Linked DNA regions of Homo sapiens: region 1 is linked to region 2. A link means that fine-mapping ties the variant in region 2 to the expression of a gene that starts in the linked region. Tissue or cell type: whole blood. Region 2 holds a variant in brackets; the other region holds the start of a gene. All regions are shown on one strand. Distances are between the middles of the regions. Region 1 holds the start of GPR171 (G protein-coupled receptor 171). Region 2 overlaps MED12L (mediator complex subunit 12L).

Region 1 (9,816 bases), 19 kb before region 2:
GTAAGGATGACTGCTTATTGAAAAGAAAAAATTTCTAAGACTCTGTAAAAGAAACAAGGAAAGGGAGGTTAGTAATTAAAATTAGCAACTATTTTCTTTAAAAGACATTGGTCTTCACAATACCGTTGTCTTTCCAGTTCTTAGAATTTTATTGGTGAACTTACCAGACCATATGGCCTGGTGAGAACATACTAGATTGTGAAGATGCCTGGGTTTTCCATTGTCTGATTTTGTGACTTTCAGGAAATCCCATGCAGGTTTGCTTTTGGTAGGGATATTTTCAACCTCAGGTTTTTCCATTCTGGTAGTTCTTGTTACCAGTTGGGTTGGAAGTTAGTTTGCAGAGGAGATAAGTGAACCGAGATTCTGAGAAGTAGAGAGAGGAAACTAGGGTTGTGGTTGAGCATGAAGAGCTTTCAATGAGGCCTTCTGGTTTTTTTCTTGTTTTAGTTTTTTGTTTTCCATAGATTCATGTGGCTCCTAAGGCTGGGAGAACCCAGGCTGACAGGGGAAGTAAGGAGTTGATGGAAAATCTCCAGCCTGGTCGCAAGAGTCTGTCTCAAAAACAAACAGAAAAAAACCAAAAAAACAAACAAAAAAACCCACAACTACCAGAACATGGATGTATGTTCATTGGTTACAAAATCCTTGGAGAAAGATTTATTTATATTAGTATCAAAACATCTGACTTCAACACTTGAGTCGCTTTTTTTTTCTTTCATTGTGGGTTTTGAAGCAGTTAAAAGCCCAGAAGCATAAGACATACCCTTAGAACTACTGTGATCACCACTGATAATGACAATGAAGTCTTGTCATGTCCCTCCCAAATCTGGAACATTGAGCGGGTTTGTAAGCTCAAGTTAAACTGATAGGGCTCCCTTTGACCTGGTCTATTCAAACTCACATGCTTAGAGCTAAGGGTACATTAGTAATCTTTCTGGTGCTGCCTGTTGGTGTGGGTCCCCCTTTTGCACATTAAACAGTGTTCTTTTGTTTTAAAGACCTGAAGATTATTTTTGTATTTTAGCAAGGAAACATTTTATATTATAATACAACCTTTTTAAAAGAAGCAAATATAAGTTATAGTGACCAACATTGAAGGCCAGATCAGCTACTCTGTAAGTGCCTTTTAATAAGAGAATAAAACTTCTGACATCTTTCTAAATTTTAATTTCCCCAATTAATTAATGATCCTTTGTGTGCATTTGTAATGAAACAATGTATGCAAACAGATGAATAAGGCAGATGTACACAAAGCTTTCTAAATTCAAGTGCTGCTTAAAGGCTACATGCCCTTTCTCTTTCCCTACCTGAGTTAGCACGTTAGAGTCCATGAATAATGTCATTCTTTACCAAACTCGATGAAAATAATTAAGCAGTTGGTTTGTATCTGGCACTATGCCAAATACTTTACATGTACTTATTTAACTTCTTATCATTTCCATAAGCTAGGTGTTGTTATTGTCCCTGCTTTACAGATGAGGAAATTGAGGCATAATGGGGTTACTTACCCAAGGTTGTGTAGCTGGTAAGATATAAAGCCAGGATTCCAGCTCAGTCAGTCTGATCTCAGAATCACATTCAAAACCACTCCAAAACACTGCCTCAGTAACAATAGTAAGATGATGATAGAAATGATAATGATTATTATTATATCTGCCAGTCTTTACTAAGGGCTTACTGTGTGGGCAGGAACTATGTTCTAAACAATTTTTATGTAATAAAGCTGAAATAAACTATTTTTAACTTTTTACCAAAATACTAAGAATATAAGTTTAGGCTTTTCGTATATTTTGCTGTTCTATGCATACAACCACGTGCACACACTCTCTCTCTCTCTCTCTCTCTCACACGCACATTTAAAAACAAAACCTAGGCCCATCCAATAAGTTTAAACCAACTTTGCTCTCAAAGCTTCCATAACCTAGTTTCTCTCTACCATCTCTACTTACATCCCAGATTAAGATTGGGATTGGTGGGGTCTCTATTATTCTGTGTACAGTTCCTTCCTGCCTTTATACTTTTGCATGTGATAGAAATTTTGGAGTCATAGGATTTTAAGGATGGATGGAAACTTTATCGATAGCCTGTAGTCTAATCCCCAAGTCAGTTGAGGAGATTGAGGGCTGGCACTGGTGTGTTCCTCAAGCTTTCACAGCATGTTCAGGCAGGACTAAGATCTGTTCTTATTGGTCATCTTCTAAGCGCTCTGCATTTATCCTTACTATTCCTGAATCCTGCTTATTCCAGAGCTTTAAGGAAGCTCCTCACATCTGAAAGCTACTCCAGGCTTTACCGATGTCCTTGGCGACCATGAATTTGGATAGTTACCATTTGTACCTTGGAATTTTGAACATACTTTTCTTCTTTATGTGAAAAACTAGTATTCGTGTGCATTGATATAGTGTCACATCTTTGCTTATTGTTACTTTCTAAGGCCCTAGGATTTTGGCTTACGCACTTCTATTTCAAATATTACATAATAATGGTAACATAATGTGTTTCTTTAAGTGCTCCATTGCTTGCACAACTATAAAATAAGTCTGTTGTATCAATGAGACGTATATGGTAAAGAGAAGAATTAGAGTAATTTATTTTGATTAATTTTCTCTGTAGCTAGAACTGACGATATATACCGTACATGAATAATTTATCTGAAATGAATAATCATTCAGTAATTCTCAAGAATCATGGAGCATCTCACATTTCTCACATTTGTGTTTGTGAACTTTTGTCTAAATTGCAGTGAGAAACAAATCTGTTTATTTAAAATTTTTGCTTATGTAAATTAGAGGTTAAAATATTGTATAATAACATCCTGTGTTCTGTGTCACAAGTTTGAGAACTAAGTGCTTAATAAATATTTTACCAGACAGTTACTTACCAGTGAAAATGTGAGATACTCAGAAGTAGTGCAGCAACAACAATACAAGATTTTAACTGTCTCTGTAGTTTGGATAGAGTGCCCATTGCTTAGAAAATAAATAAACTGGCTGGGCACAGTGGCTCACGCCTGTAATCCCAGCACTTTGGGAGGCTGAGGCGGGTGGATCACTTGAGGTCAAGAGTTCGAGACCAGCCTGGCCAACATGGTGAAATCCTGTCTCTACTAAAAATACAAAAATTAGCCAACGCGGTGGCGGGCACCTGTAATCCCAGCTACTCGGGAGGCTGAGGCAGGAGAATTGTTTGAACCCGGGATGTGGAGGTTGAAGTGAGCTGAGATCGCACCACTGCACTCCAGCCTGGGTGAAAAAGCGAGACTCCTCAAAAACAAAACAAAACAAAAACAAAATAAAAGCTTATTAGATTTTCTATGGGAATCACAGTGGAATCTTCTTGAAATCACCTATTGTAATGTTTGTAGAGGAAAGTCATCTTAAGGCCTGTTGTTCCCTGTTGTGAAGATCTACAACATGGCCTCTATCCACCCAGTTATAAGATTGAGTTACTGAATAGTTATGCTCGCTCAGGTATTCAGTCTGGTGTCAATTATCCTGTCTTTTGGAGACAGATGAATGGGTTCATCAGATATAAGAAAATTATAGTGTCATTCACAGCTAGGACCTATTTAGAGTTTAAAAATTGATGCTTTTTTTTTATACAGCTTGGCTTTTTCTACTTATAAGCCTTAAATACTGAAAAATCACAATTTTGTTTTCCACGGAAAAGCATTTGAATATATTAAGTGTTTAAAAAGACATACCTGGGGCTATCTTCTGTGAGCCTCAGCAAGCCTTGCTGCAAGTCTTCAGAGAAGCATGAGCTGTTTGGTTAGCCGCAGCAGTAGCAACCCCATTGCAGGCTGCTGGCTTTACTAAAAATTTCCTTTCCTTTTTGTGTGGTTTTAAAATGTTGCATATTGACGTAGATGAAACTGTGGTTTGCAAGTAGTTTAACTTTATGAAAGTCTCCTAAAGAAGTTTTTTTAATGTATACAATTTCATGTATGCTTTCTTAAGCAATTTATTTGTCATATTTTTTAGAGAAAAGATCTTCATTTAGTACCTAGCCTTTTTTTTTTTTTAAAGTATCCAAGGTATGTTTTGTGTCATAATGATTTCAAAGAATATCACTCTTCATGCCTTGATGGGGATTAATAATTAAAGATATAAGGTGTTTAAGCAAATATTTTTTCAGTATATATAGTAACACAGCATTTCAAAGTTAAAATTTAAAAAATAGTTGCAGTTTTTATTCCTGCTGAGACACCTATTATTAAAAAAAGAAGTAAACAAAAAGATGTGTTTTACAGAGTCAGCTAATGTATACATTTTATTTATCTTATTTTATGTTCATTATAGAAAAATCTGGAAATAGAAATAAAAAAGGAACATCATTATGCAGAGAGATAATTACTGTTAATATTTTTGGTACATAAGTTTTAAATTTTTTCTATGCTTATGTATTTCCACTTAGATGTTATTCATACTATTTTATAGTTTATAATTTTTCATTGAAGAATATATTATATATTCAATTTATGAGATTAGACTTGTAATAAGTATTTGTCTGTTTGACTCAAACAGCCTGATGAATTGGAATAGTATTTAGTAATTAATAGATTGTGTGTAAAGGAACCCTACAGTGTGTATTTAAGTTGTTTGGTTAAATGTTCATTGTGTCTGTGGCAGAACTAACTGAATGTTTGAAAGAAGCCTAGCATGCTGGGGGACCTAACAAACATATTTTCAAGAGTTCTGAATTTTCTGGTTCAAAGTTGATGTGTTAATGCAAAGCCATTGCCTGGTTATTTAGGGTCTGGTTTCTTCTAATGCTTCATTGGCTTGGTAGGTGCTTTGGTTTCTTTTAATAATACTTGGTCAGTTTTCTGGATAAGAAAAAAGAAGATACCTTTCCAGGATCTAAAATTAATCTCTTGGTATTAGTTTTTAAAAAGAAAAATGTCTCAAAAGATGAAATGAGAAGTATCTAGCTAGGGAGAATTTAGGGAAAGTCTAAGGAGACTTTTGAAAAAAATGTAAAGATGCTTATGATGATATTGGTCACGTCTCAGGTATTCTGACATTCTCCCAAATTCATATAATTATTATTTTTGCCAGTGAAGACCATAAATTATAAACTAGGAGGGAAAAAGCAAATGTTTCTCAAACATTTTATGTTAAGAACCACTGTGAACTTCATCATCATAGTGCTAGGAAAGGATCTTTCTTTTAAGATATGTATGCTTCAACATTGTACAGGACTCACTGAAGAACATACTTGTAGAAAAGATATATTTGCAGACAAGTAAGTGAGAAGTGATCAGGGTTTACATCCACTGGAGGGTAGAGGAGATGAAAGGGAGAGAATTTAGAGATGAGTGGAGTTGACTGCAAACAGTGGTGAATGATTTTACCATGGCATGGAGAAAAACTGGGATGAAAGATTTTTGACAGTTTCTGTTTTGCTTTTTTTAGTTAGGTCTCTTTATATGTTTACTTCCTCGGTTCACTTTAAGGTTGTAGACACAATTGAAAAGTACAAACAATTGTACTTAAAAATCTACCCAGACCACAGTTTCTGTGTCTGGATTGCCAAATGTGAAAGCACTGAAGTGCCCTTGTTCTCAGAGTTCTATTTAATTTTTAGAATAGTGAGAATTAATCTTTTAATAGATGAATCATATTCCTCCTTCTGAGAATGAGCTTAGGCAACCTGGCTTTGTGTGGAAGTTTATTCACAGTGGAAATACATGTAGTTTTCATTTTTTAATACTAGTTTCATTTGATTTTCTATAAGCCACTTTTTTCTATCTGTTTCACTGAGGACAAGTGTTTGTGACTGTACTTAGTGTTCCGGGAAGTTGCATGTCATCACTAATACACACCCAAGCGGGAAGAAGTGAGGTGAAGTTATTTTTCCCTTACCTTGGTCATGGCAGTACTTTTTGTTAAAGAAATAATCTATTCATTACTTATGAATATTTCATGGATATTTTGTATGTGTAAAATAAAAATTAAAGCTAAATTGTCCACCAAGTTATGAATTGAGAAAGAAAATATTTTCTGTGGTCAACTCTCCTATCCATACAAAACGTGCTTTTGATTTTATTGAACACAAATACCAAACAACGGTATTTCAGTAGAAATACTTGCTTTGAATATTTAGCGTTTTTAAAATGTGCTTTTTCGGCATAGCATGGAAGCCATTTGGAACTAATGAGGAAGGGGAAAGCAAATGTTGGGGTCGGTGGTCACTGCCACAGCCGGGCACAGGTCTGAGGACTTGTTTTTGTTAAAACAAGCCATGAGATACAGGAGATTCTGCCTCTTACAGATGGGGAAACTGTGGTGCAGAGAAATTAAGGCCCACTCAAGCCTGCACAGTTAGACCCTAGCGTCCCAGCTCTTAGTTATGCTTCTTACAATGAAATTGCTGGGGACAGTGATTACAATGGAGGCCATCAGGTCAATCCGGTCCCCCTTCCCATTTAGTATTTGTAACCATTTGAATTTGCATGCCATTGGGTGGTAGAACAGTGTACCACTGTTCTTGCCTTCCTCATGGAGTTTTCAGCCTCTGGAATGTGAATTTGGGACGCTCTTACATCAAAATAATTTACAAATGGAAGATTTTTATGATCAGTCACTTCTGCCACAGCCTGTGCAACTCCAGTTCAGCCCTCTCTCTATAGCCGTTGTGCTTCAGGGTTATGTTTTGAAAGAAAATAATTTTTTTTTTTTTTTTTTTTTGCACATAATATTCTTTCCCACCTGCGTTAGCCCAAAGATTTTTTTCTGTGCTCTGAGATTGGTAGCTTTAAATCTGAGAGTGACTGATGTGATTAAGCAGTGTAGTTTTAAAGTGAAATGTAGACGTATGGTTTCCATGTTACTGTTTCTGTATTATTTAAATTCTGCCTTGTTTTTTTTTCTTTACTGAAATGGAGAATACATGTTTGGAAATGATTTGAAGGCAAATTTGTTTTTTTCACATTCTTGGAATGTGAACTCAGTTAAAAGAATGGCTGGGTACATTACCCTGTCATTTCCCCTTGACAGTCCTTTTGGTTGTCTGCCTTTTTGTTGATGTTATTGCGTCAACATTTCATTTTACCTTTTGGTTGTGAGGTGTGACTGCTATTTGGTCCATGGTTAAAAGATAATTTATGGAGGGGAAATTTATAATAAAGAACTTTTAAAGATTATCTCGTTTCTTTTTAGTCACTGAATTTCATGCTTTTTTTCCCCCATTTGTTTGTTTATGGTCCATTTCTTATGAACTTATGACTAACACATTATCTTTTTTTTTTTTTTTTTTTTGAGACAGAGTCTTGCTCTGTCACCCAGGCTGGAGTGCAGTGGTGCAATCTCAGCTCACTGCAAGATCCGTCTCCCAGGTTCACGCCGTTCTCCTGCCTCAGCCTCCCGAGTAGCTGGGACTACAGGCACCCACCACCACGCCCAGCTAAATTTTTGTATTTTTAGTAGAGATGGGGTTTCACCGTGTTAGCCAGGATGGTTTCGATCTCCTGACCTCGTGATCCACCTGCCTCGGCCTCCCACAGTGCTGGGATTACAGATGTGAGCCACCGTGCCCGGCCATGACTAACACATTTTCAAAGCACAGAACACATTTTTAAAACTTTTTAGTTACTTTCCAGGAGAATGTTCTTTGGAGAACATCTCCCTTTTCCTAGCCATGTGATTTTTTTTTTTTTTTTTAAGACAGGGTCGTCTTACGTTGTCCAGGCTGGAGTGCAGTGGTTATTCAGAGGTCTAATCATAGCTTGCTGCAGTCCCAGACTCCTTGGCTCAAGCAATCCTGTTGCATCAGCCTCCTGAGTAACTAGGACTACAGGGGCACAACACTGCACCCAGCCATGTGAATATTTCTTGATCAAGTATTTATGAAAAATTATAACAGCAAATATTTATCAATTACAGGCTGCCTCCTGAGCTCTTATCCTGGAGAATATTTTATGCTTTGTACAGGAATGAAAAGGAATCTTATCACCTGCTATGTGCTGTTAGAACCTGTGGGAATCCGGGTATTGTAATGCTCCAGACTGTGGTGGGGTGAATAGGAGCTTCTTCAGAATGAGCTACAAGGTGGCATGCTTGGGGGATGACACAGATAATTGGAGTATGAGAAATTTTGGGGGGGACTGTCAGGCAATTTGGGGGCTTGGGTGTCTCTGTGAGGAAAAGATTGAGACCAAATCTTGGATGCTCCCTGGGATTTTAATAAAGTAAGCATTGGAGAGCTCATGGTTATACAAGGCAAGGAGCTGTCAATTGGGCAGTATTAGGTGAATCTACCAACATTGGAGTTTGCTTGGTTAGGAGAGAAAGTGGAAGGTGAGAAGCCAGTTAAGGAAAGATTGCAGTCATTTTAAGTGAGAAGCAATAAGGATCTGAAATTACATGGGAAGGGAGGAATAGCTGAGAACCACTGCAGAAGTAAGATCACTGCAGGGTGGGGTAGAGAGGGAGCAGAGGAGACTGAGGTTTTAGTCCTGGGAAAGGAAGTCTGAGGAGAGAGGCAGCTTGGTCAGATAGAAAGGTGAATTTGCCTTATTGGCTGACAAAGTTTTTATTTGATATAGCTTAGATAGATTTTTATTTTATTCTTTTTCATTTAGGTTTTAAATGTTTCTCAGAGCTTTATCTGTCATTAACCAGAACATTCTGAATGTACTTTGCAAACACTTAAGGAGCTCTTATTTTGAATGGCCTTGATGGAAATGCTGGTTTTCTTATTTAAAATAAGACCATTTTTCTTATTTTTTACCTAACTACTTTCATACTGTTAGCCAGATATGAACTACACTTGGCCATGCCAATTTTTTTATAGTTGCTTGTTTTTCTTAACAAGAAAGTGAATTTGATGTGGAGTTGAAGTTGGCTTTTATAAGGATTATGTTCTCATGCAGTCAATATGATATCAGAGAGAGCTAGTATTCCTTTAGAAAGATAATGGTTGAAAGTACAACATAACTAACAGCTTGAAAAAAGCTGCAAGTTAAATGTAGAGACCCTTTTAGCTTAGAAAATAGAACATTGAGGCCGGGCGCTCACGCCTGTCATCTCAGCACTTTGGGGCCCGAGGTGGATGGATCACCGGAGGTCGGGAGTTCGAGACCAGCCTGGCAAACATGGTAAAACCCCATCTTTACTAAAAATACAAAAATTAGCCAGGCGTGATGGCGGGTACCTGTAATCTCAGCTACTTGGGAGGCTGAGGCAGGAGAATCGAACCCTGGAGGTGGAGGTTGCAGTGAGCTGAGATCACGCCACTGCACTCCAGCCTGGGGGACAAGAGCAAGACTCTATGTCAAAAAAAGAAAACAGAAAAATCAAGAATTTAAGTAATATGTAATATTGTATGGATATGATGAGGGCCATGTTTTCTTGGTGTTCATTTGTGTCAGGAAATGGAATGATAGGAAAGTAAGCCCTTTGCCACACACTTCTGGGGCAGGTTTAGCAGGTCATCAGATGATGGGGGATTTGGGAGAGAAGGGAGAAGTAGTGCAGGTATGGGCTTCCCTTGCCATGCTGATACCATGGGAGTTAAGGCTGGTGACACCTGGAGGCTGATAAAGAACAAATTTACTCCCTTGTCTTAAGTCCTGTGTTGCAGGTCCCCAAAACACATGATACAATATTTAGGAAGTGGAGTGAAGTGGCTAGTGGCTATGACGGTGACCATGAGAGAAGCCATAGAATCATACAATGAACACCTTCAAAAAGTAACAAGTAGTCTTATAAGTTTTATCAGTGAGAATACCTGTCATATATTTTCCTGTTTATTGAGGTGGGCCTATTTTTATAACACCCCTTTCTTACTTACACCCAACTTCTATTGAAG
Region 2 (9,816 bases):
AATCGTTTTATTCTCATGCTGATTTTATACAAAAATGTAAAAATAAATAAGAACCAAAAGAATCAGAAAAGAAGCTTTTAGTGTGCTCAGCAACCCTCCCTTCCCTGCCCACTTCTCAGTTGATTCACTGTTTCTTACCAGCTCATGCCAGTCCATTAAAGAGGAGAGATAGGCAACAGAAAAAAATTAAAAGATGAACAGGACTTCTGGATGATGATTAACTGGATTACTGGATAAGCAGGCAGTCTGGTGAGCCAGTTTGTGTAGGTGTCTGTTTGTGGAGCCCTGCTCATTGATAGTTACTTCTGGTATTATCACTGAATTTCTGCTGTGAAAGTTGTCATTATGTTAACCTTGAGGCTTTAGGAATATAAACAATGCTTCCTAAATTCTAGAGATCACATTTAAGAAAGATTCATATATATAGCTAAACTTTTTAAAAAGGAATACTGTGGCCGGGCACGGTGGCTCAAGCCTGTAATCCCAGCACTTTGGGAGGCCGAGGTGGGTGGATCACGAGGTCAGGAGATTGAGACCAGCCTGGCCAACATGATGAAACCCTGCCTCTACTAAAAATAAAAAAATTAGCCAGGTGTGGTGGCATACACCTGTAATCCTAGTTACTTGGGAGGCTGAGGCAGGAGAATTGCTTGAACCTGGGAGGCGGAGGTTGCAGTGAGCCGAGATCCCACCATTGCACTCCAGCCTGGGTGACAGAGCAAGACTCAGTCTCAAAAAAAAAAAAAAAAAAAAAAAAAAAAAAAGAGGGGGGGTATACTGTAATAGTGTAAGTCTTGAAATTTTCTTCAGTGAAATTTTGCCTTGTTTCACAAATCCAGATATATGAGAATGAAGTGGTCTGAAATGTTTTAGCCTACATTGTCTACTGTCACTTTGGAGACTTTGGTAACATAATTAAAGAACATGGCAGAATGAGATTTATGAGGCCCAAAGACAGTTATTAAAGTGTAGTGGGAGCATTGTGTAGAAAGAATGTCAATGCCAAAGATTCAATCTGATTTAGATAGTGAGTGCACTTGTCCCTTAGTGCAGTGTAATATCTTAGGATTGTGCTGCATGAAGTGTTTTCAAGTTGTCATGTATTACAGATAACCTCAGGGTTCTCTCTTTGGACAGAATTTAATTGATACAAGGCTGTGCAAAGCATTGCTCACTCCAGAAATACGTTCATCTTAATAAAAGCAGGCTTAGTCAGCTCTGAGTTCATTACTCATCTGTGTAATTATATACCATGACCTATTTTCCTCTTGTATTAGAACACCTTCCACCTTCCTAATTGTGAGCTGTAATTCCTTCTGTGAAGAAAAGAATTTTTTCTTCATAGCACTTCGATGAAATTAACAAAGCTCTTGATAATACTTGAGGGATTTAAAAAATTACCTTTTAAGATTTTTTTTGCATAATATGAGGTCTCTTTTCAGTGAAGGTGTTTTGCCCAGTGAGCGTTTGTCGTCTTGAAGTGGCCCAAGTGTTTTTTCATTAAAGATCCTGCATTACACAAAACAAAAAACCAAAGATTTAAGTGAGCACCTGACTTTTTATTGGGAAAATATGTCTGTACTTACTTCTTAAATTCAGCTTGTGTAATTGTGAAATATTTCAACATGTGCATTTGTTGTTTCACTATACTTGCTATTTGTTGTCATTATTGATTATTGATTTGGTTGCAGCCTCTTGTGGGAAACTTAAACTCTGAGAGCTTGGGCATGAAGTGGTTTTGGTTATTGGTTTATATTACCCCCCCCCCCCCCTTGGATATGGATGATCGAATCAATTTATCAAATGACTGAATATAACAATTCATCTTAGCCATGAAATCATAAGTCTAATTGCAGGTGGATTTTTTTAATTGTTTTGTTTTTTAAAAACCTTTGTCTTATTGACCTTTTGGGCCAGATAATTATTTATTTTTGGGAGCTGTCCTATGCATTGTAAGATGTTTAGCAGCAGTTCTGACTTCTGCCTACTAGATGCCAGTAACCCACTACCCAAGTTGCGGTAATCAAAAATGTTTCTAGACTTTGCCAAATGTCCTCTGAGGGACAAAATTGCCCTCATTTGATTACCACCAGTGTAATGAGACTAATGTGTGGACTTTGCAGAGATAACACCTGAAAGCCATGTGGTCTGATAGGAAGAGGATAGGTTTAGCAAAATGGTGGTTGGATTTGGTTCTGCCTTAGTCTAGGTTTTCATATTTCTGAATTCTTTAAACCAGTGAGTGCTCCCTAAACTTTAATGTGCATACACATTACCTGGGATCTTGCTAAAATGAGGACTGAGATTCCATTATGTCTGGAGTTTGGCACGTGATATGGTTTGGCTCTGTGTCCCCACCAAAATCTCATCTTGTAGCTCCCGTAATACCCACATGTTGTGGAAGGGAGCCAGTGGGAGATGATTGAATTATGGGGGTGGGTCTTTCTGTGCTGTTCTTGTGATAGTGAATGGGTCTCATGAGATCTGATGGTTTTAAAAACGAGAGTTGCCCTGCACAAGCTCTCTTCTCTTGTCTGCTGCCATGTGAGACATGCCTGTCACCTTCTGCCATGATTGTGAGGCCTCCCACCATGTGGAACTGTAAGTCCAGTAAACCTCTTTCTTTTGTAAACTGTCCTGTTTCTGGTACATTTTTATCAGCAGTGTGAAAACGGACTAATACAGTAAATTGGTGCCAGTAGAGTGGCACATTGCTGAAAAGGTATCTGAAAATGTGGAAGCAACTTTGGAACTGGGCAACAGGCAGAGATTGGAACAGTTTGGAGGGCTCAGAAGAAGACAGGAAAATGTAGGTAAGTTTGGAACTTCCTAGAGACTTGTTGAATGCCTTTGCCCAAAATGCTGATAGTGATATGGACGATAAAGTCCAGGGTGAGGTGGTCTCAGATGGAAATGAGGAACTTGTTGGGAAATGGAGCAAAAGTGATTCTTGTTATGTTTTAGCAAAGAGACTGGAGGCATTTTGCCCCTACCCTAGAGATTCGTGGAACTTTGAACTTGAGGGAGATGATTTAGGGTATCTAGCTGAAGAAATTTCTAAGCAGCAAAGCATTAAAGAGGTGACTTGGGTGCTGTTAAAAGCATTCAGTTTTATAAGGGAAGCAGAGCTTAAAAGTTCAGAAAATTTGCAGCCTGACAATGCAATAGAAAAGAAAATCCCATCTTCTGACGAGAAGTTCAAGCCGGCTGCAGAAGTTTGCATAAGCAACAAAGAGCTGAATGTTAATCACCAAGAAAATGGGGAAAATGTATCCAGGGCATGTCAAAGGTCTTTACTGCAAGCCCATCACATCGCAGGCCTGGAGGCCTAGAAGGAAAAAGTGGTTTCGTGGGCCCAGCCCAGGGTCTCTGTGCTGTGTGCAGCCTGGGGAATTGGTGCCCTGCATCCCAGCCACTCTAGTGTGGCTGAAAGGGGCCCTTGTAGAGCTCAGGTCATGGCTTCAGAGGGTGCAAGCCTCAAGCCTTGGCAGCTTCCACCTGGTGTGGAGCCTGCGAGTGCACAGAAGTCAAGAATTGGGGTTTGGGAACCTCCGCCTAGATTTCAGAATATGTGTGGAAATGCCTGGATGTCCAGGCAGAAGTTTGCTGCAGGGGCAGGGCTCTCATGGAGAACCTCTGCTAGGGCAGTATAGAAGGGAAATGTGGGATTGGAGCCCCCACACAGAGTGCCTACTGGGGCACCATCTAATGGAGCTGTGAGAGGAGGGCCAACATCCTCCACACTCCAGAATAGTAGATCCCCTGACAGCTTGCACCGCTGGTCTGGAAAAGTTGCAGATACTCAATGCCAGGAGGGAGGCTGTACCCTGCAAAGCCACAGGGGTGGAGCTGCCCAAGACCATGGGAACCCACCTCTTGCATTGCGTGACCTGGGTGTGAGACATGGAGTCAAAGGAGATCGTTTGGGAAGTTTACGATTTGACTGTCCTGCTGGATTTTGGACTTGGATGGGGCCTGTAGCCCCTTTGTTTCAGCCAGTTCCTCCCATTTGGAATGACTGCATTTACCCAATGCCTGTACTGCATTGTATCTAGGAAGTAACTAACTTGCTTTAGATTTTACAGGCTCATAGGCGGAAGGGACTTGCCTTGTCTGGGATGAGACTCTGGACTGTGGACTTCTGAGTTAATGCTGAAATGAATTGAGACTTGGGGGACTGTTGGAAGACATGATTGGTTTTGAAATGTGAAGATATGAGATTTGGGAGCGGTCAGAGGTGGAATGATATGGTTTGGCTCTGTGTCCCCACCCAAATCTCATCTTGTGGCTCCCTTAATTTCCATGTGTTGTGGGAGGGACCTGGTGGTAGATGATTGAATTATGGGAGTAGATCTTTCTGTGCTGTTCTTGTGATAGTGGATGGGTCTCATGAGATCTGATGGTTTTAAAAATGGGAGTTGCCCTGCACAAGCTCTCTTCTCTTGTCTGCCACCATGTGAGATGTGCTCCACCATGATTGTGAAGCCTCCTCAGCCATGTGAAACTATAAGTCCAGTAAACCTCTTTCTTTTGTAAATTGCCCATTCTCAAATATGTCTTTATCAGCAGTGTGAAAATGGACTAATAAAGCATGATATGCTGCTGGTCCATGTACCACTCTTTGAGTTAGCATCATTTTTTTCCCCCAGATCCTGTGCCCAGGAGACATTTAATAAAGGTGATGATGGTAAAATATTTTTGTTGTAGTCGGGACTTTAGACAAGAAAAATTATATTCCAAGTAGGCCTGAAATCTAGGATCTTTGCCCAAGTTTATTCATTACATTTCATCATAATCTTCCCATCTTTATGGTCTCTTGGAAATGTAAATTGGTATTTTATACCTATTTGAGAGGTGGCGATTGTGATCATCTTATATTTACTTAGAATGTTCCTAAAAAGTCATGAGATTCTCTTTGGAAAGAAAGAGGTTAAGTTCTGCATGGAGTAATAATCTCAGTGGCCTAGGGCAGTATGGAACATGTGCTGGTTGTAAATCATATATTCTAACTTTACAACATTGAGGCTTTTATTAAAAAGTCCAAAAAAAAAAAAAAACTAGATGTCAGTGAGATTGCAGAAAAAAGAGAACACTTATGTACTCTTGTGGGATTGTAAATTAGTTCAGTCCCTATTGAAAGCAGTGTAGAGATTTCTCAAAGAACTAAACATAAAATTACCATTTCACCCAGCAATCCCATTACTAGGTATATACTCAAAGAAAAACAAATTGTTTTACCAAAAAGACACCTTCATTCACATGTTTATTGTAGTACTATTCACAATAGCAAAGGCATAGAATCAGCCTAGGTGCCTATCAATGATGGATTGGATGAAGAAAATATGGTACATATACACTGTGGAATACTATGCAGCCATACAAAAGAAATCATGTCCTTTGCAGCAACATGGTTGTAGCTAGAGGCCATTATCCTAAGTGAATTAACACAGAAACAGAAAACCAAATACCACATATTTTCACTTATAAGTGGGAACTAAACATTG[G/T]ATACACATGGACACAAAGATGGGAACAGTAGACACTGGAGACTCCAAAGACGGGGAGGTAGGAAGCGGGGAAATGGTGGAAAAACTTACTCTTGGGTTTTGTGTTCACTATTTGGGTGATGGGTTCACTAGAAGCCCAAAAGCTCAGTGTCACACAATATACCCAAGTAACAAACTTGCACATGTAACTGTTGAACCTAAAAGAAAAAAAGAAAAGAACATTGCCTACTCCTGGGGAGGGAAGTAGGAGCAAGTCCAGCCTCCTTACACCCAACCAAATACCTCGTGTTTTAACTTACAAGTGGGAGCTTATAAGTGGTAGGGTGGTTGGACTTTGCTGTATCTGTGATATTTTATTTCTTAAATTCTGAATCAAATATGCCTAATATTACTGCCTATTAACACTGGTGACTGGTACATTGGTGTTATCAACATTAGTGTCTGCACTTCTGTTTTTGTATATTTAAATTATTTCATAATTAGGAATAGAAATATCTATGGAGAATGGATTGCCTTCAAATAATGCTTTTATCAGTACCCACTTATGACGTGCATTTTTCTTCCTCTTCTTTTTTCAGTTCTTATAAAGGTACAACTTTTATATATTTTTTTTCCTTCCTTTCAGTCCAGACATCAAAAGCTTTAATACACAGTGCTCTGGATCTTTTTCTATGAGATAAATACTTGTTTTCTAGCTGATTCTGTATCAATAGAAAATAGTATAGATGTATGTAATCATTTATACATTTTTAAACTTACTGAAGCCATTTTCTTGCTGCTTTAATCTCTCATGCCTTAATGTTTAACACTTTTTTTTTTTTTGGTGTCAATGTGATCGCCTATGCGGTTTTCATAGTATTTATGTGTCGTGTATTTATAGTTGTGTTATTACATTTTATGTTACTAAAATAATTTACAAATAACTGTCTCATCTGTGTTCTGCATTCCTGTGGCACTCTTGTCCGTGCCCTCTCTAGGCTCAGTCAAGGAGAATCTCACTTTCTTCTTCACCCAGAAGAAGGAATCCTCCTCCCACCCCCTATCTTTTGTCATCACCCAGAGCATTTAAAGTTTGACACTCACCACACTTCTCAGAAGCTGTCAGGGACCTAATTTCTAAGCCTGTTGTCTTTTTCTCAGTTATCCTATTTCCTGACCCTCTTTGCAGCATTTGATATCATTGATTTCCCCTTATTGAAATCTGCTGTTTATATAGTGTAACCTTTGCCTCCTGTGTACCCCTGATATTTCTTCCTTTGCCAAGGCCGTTTGTTCATTTGCTCACTAAAGCCATCAGAACATGCTTATTACATTTTATGTTACTAAAATAACTTACAGCGTTTTACATCTTTAAAATATTTTATATTATTTACTAGTGTTATTTAATTCTCTCTGTCATCAGCCTCCTAGCTTTTCTTACCCAAGCAGAGCTGGATATTTTAGAACTTCTTTCACCCTGCCTATTGGGCTTGCCTTTCTGCCCCAGCACTGTGACTCCTTAGGGCTGGGTAAACAATGTCCTATGTTTCTAAGTCATAGACCTGTCCAGGGTGCCCTCGACTTCACAGAAGTTGCTGTTCTCTCTCTGTAATTGGCTACACTCCCCTTATTTCTCAGAAATCCTTCTTCTGCTTAGCTCCTGTGTTAGTCTATTGTCTGCTGCTATAACAATACTACGTATTGAGTCATTTATAAAGAAAGGAAATTAATTTGGCTCATGGTTCTGGATTCTCTGAAGCTCAAGATGGAGGGGATGCATCTGGTGAGGCCTTCCTGCTGCATCATGGTGGAAGGGCAAGTGAGCATGTGAGACCAAGAGAAAAAGAGGGCCAACTTCTGCAGTAATACCATTAATTTGCTCACGAGGCCTTTGCTATCATGATCTAATCATCTCTCAAAGGTACCACCTCTTAATGCCGTCACAATGGCAAATCAATTTCAAATGAATTTTGAAACGGACACTCAAACCGTAGCAGCTTTCTGTCAGATCCTATCGGTAGCTGTCTCATCCGTGTTCTGCATTCCTGTGGCACTCTTGTCCGTGCCCTGTCTAGGCTCAGTCAAGGAGAATCTCACTTTCTCCTTCACCCAGAAGAAGGAACTCTCCCACCCCCTATCTTTTTTCATTACCCACAGCATTTGATGTTTGACACTCACCACACTTCTCAGAAGCTGTCAGGGACCTAATTTCTAAGTCTGTTGTCTTTTTCTCAGTTATTCTATTTCCTGACCTCTTTGCTTGCAGTTTTTGATATCATTGATTTCCCCTTGTTGAAATCTGCTGTTTATAAAGTACATTGTAACCTTTGGCTCCTGTGTACCCCTGATATTTCTTCCTTTGCCAAGGCCTTTTGTTCATTTGCTCACTATAAAGCCGTCAGAACATGCTGCCATGCCCTATGGAAACACATCAGGGAACTCTCAGGAAGATTCCAGTCTAGGGGGAGGCTGAACAGAGGGACACTTCAAGGTATGACATGGGGTCATCATTGAAGGAGGAAGCACAGGAACACAGTGAGCACGTATCTAGTTTCAGAAATGGTGGCATCAGGGCAGCCTTCCTGGAGCATGTGATAGTGAAGATTGACAAATGAGTTGGCTTTAGCTAGGCAAAGAAGAAGGAAGGAGTTTTGGGGTGAGAGAGCTATAGGAACAGGCATCAAGACTGACACGAGAGGCTGTCACAGTGGGGGAAAATGGATGGCCTAAGCTCTTGGGTAACATGATGGAATCTTGCCAATGAGTAAACGTTTACGTTACAAATGAGGACAGTGATGCTTAAAATGGTTAAGTGATTCATCAAAGGGCACCTAACACATAGCCAGACAGTATTCAAACTAATGTCTGATTGATTCCAAGCCAGGGCTCCCCTGCTCCTGAAAGAATGTGGGGGCAGCATGTTTTATATGAATGTGATCCTTTACACAGGCCCTTCAACATTTTGCTGGAGTCGCATCTTGAGAAGTCAGCCAGTGTTTTTTTTTCAAGAAAGGAATGTGCATGTGTGTATGTTTGAGAGTATATATATTATTTTTGTTTTTGATCTGAGTTTTAAGGTTTTGCATGAGGTGGATGCCTTCAGTTTCTTCAGTTATCTTCCAGATACTGCGGCATAGAGAACCTCCTTTTGATTTGCCAGTTTCTAAAAGTATTTAAAATGAGTTTCTGATTTTTTGACTCAGTTTTCTATCTCCTGCGTTGATATCCAAAGAGAGATACAGAGTCGGACTATCATGAATGGTGATTACAACAGGTAACGTTAACCTATAAATGGTGGAAACTCTTCTGCAGGGAGAAACCCAGATCTGCTGCATGTGGTTTGGATGCCACACGCAGATCCCCTGGGGCCCCTGGCACAAGGAGAGCTCTGCTTGCTGCTGTTTGTCACCTTCAGCCAGTTTTCTCTGGCAGGAGATGTGAGCTCAAGATCAGGTCACTTGATCCTAACTCCTGCTGCTGTGACCCATCGACTTTACCTTCAGTTAGAATCCAGGTCAGTGACCAACATGTGTTAATGTAACTTAAAATTGGCTGAATGGTGTGGCCACATACTTTCATTGAGGAGCTGTGCTAAGTTTTCACATTAGAAATATCTAAATATTCTTCTTAGGCTGAATTGCAGATACCCAAGAACTTCCTCCTCCACCAAAGCATAAATTCGGCCCTCTCTTGATTCCCTCTTGATCTTCGTATTCACAGTCTTTACAACCCATAAAGATAAAAGAAATCTGAATTTCTGCTACAAACAGATCCAACTCTTGATTATGTGTGAGAATGGTAAGGGGGGACGGATTAGGTTGGATTTATAAACTGATAACGTCCAAACATAGTCTTTACTTTGTATTCTAATCGCTTCCCTCAAAACACTTTTGGCATAGCTTGTGGCAGACTGCAAGTCTAGCATATTGGCATGTCTAAGAACTCCAGCCTGTCTTCACTTTGTGATTATGCAAATGGATCATGGGAGCTGTCAGTGGAGGGTGAGGTGTGGCATAGGCACCTCATGACCTCCAATGGATACATAGTCATGCAGTCTTCCCGAATGGCAAACTGGGGGCCAGGAAAATGGCCACCCACTGTTAGCCTTTACTCTAGGGACTGCATCTTGGTAGTCAGGATGGACCTGTAATTTTTTGCCTATAATGATTGGAATAGTCCAGGGTTTCTCAGCCTTGGTACTGTTAACTGTTTTTTTCGGTTTCAGTTCTTTGTGGGTAGGCTGTCTTGTGTATTGTTGGGTGTTTAGCCGCATCCCTGGCCTGTATCCACTAGGTGGCAGTAGAACGCCATGGTTTGTGCAACCAGCCACGTC

What was found.
Region 1: GPR171 starts here. The variant in region 2 is fine-mapped to the expression of GPR171 in whole blood (TOPMed, PIP above 0.99).

The regions. Positions count from the first base shown.
Region 1 is chr3:151,199,398-151,209,213 of GRCh38, forward strand. GPR171 (G protein-coupled receptor 171) reads right to left here and starts at 3,819. Exons shown (of 3, transcript NM_013308.4): 1 at 3,707-3,819; 2 at 1,512-1,600; 3 at 1-42. The region is part of intron 16 of MED12L (mediator complex subunit 12L); the gene reads left to right.
Region 2 is chr3:151,218,134-151,227,949 of GRCh38, forward strand. The region is part of intron 16 of MED12L (mediator complex subunit 12L); the gene reads left to right. It overlaps P2RY14 (purinergic receptor P2Y14), which reads right to left. Exons shown (of 3, transcript NM_014879.4): 2 at 1,402-1,509. Among named protein-coding and RNA genes, the nearest start is that of GPR171, 20 kb to the left of the region's middle. The variant G/T (reference allele first, on the strand shown) is at 5,505.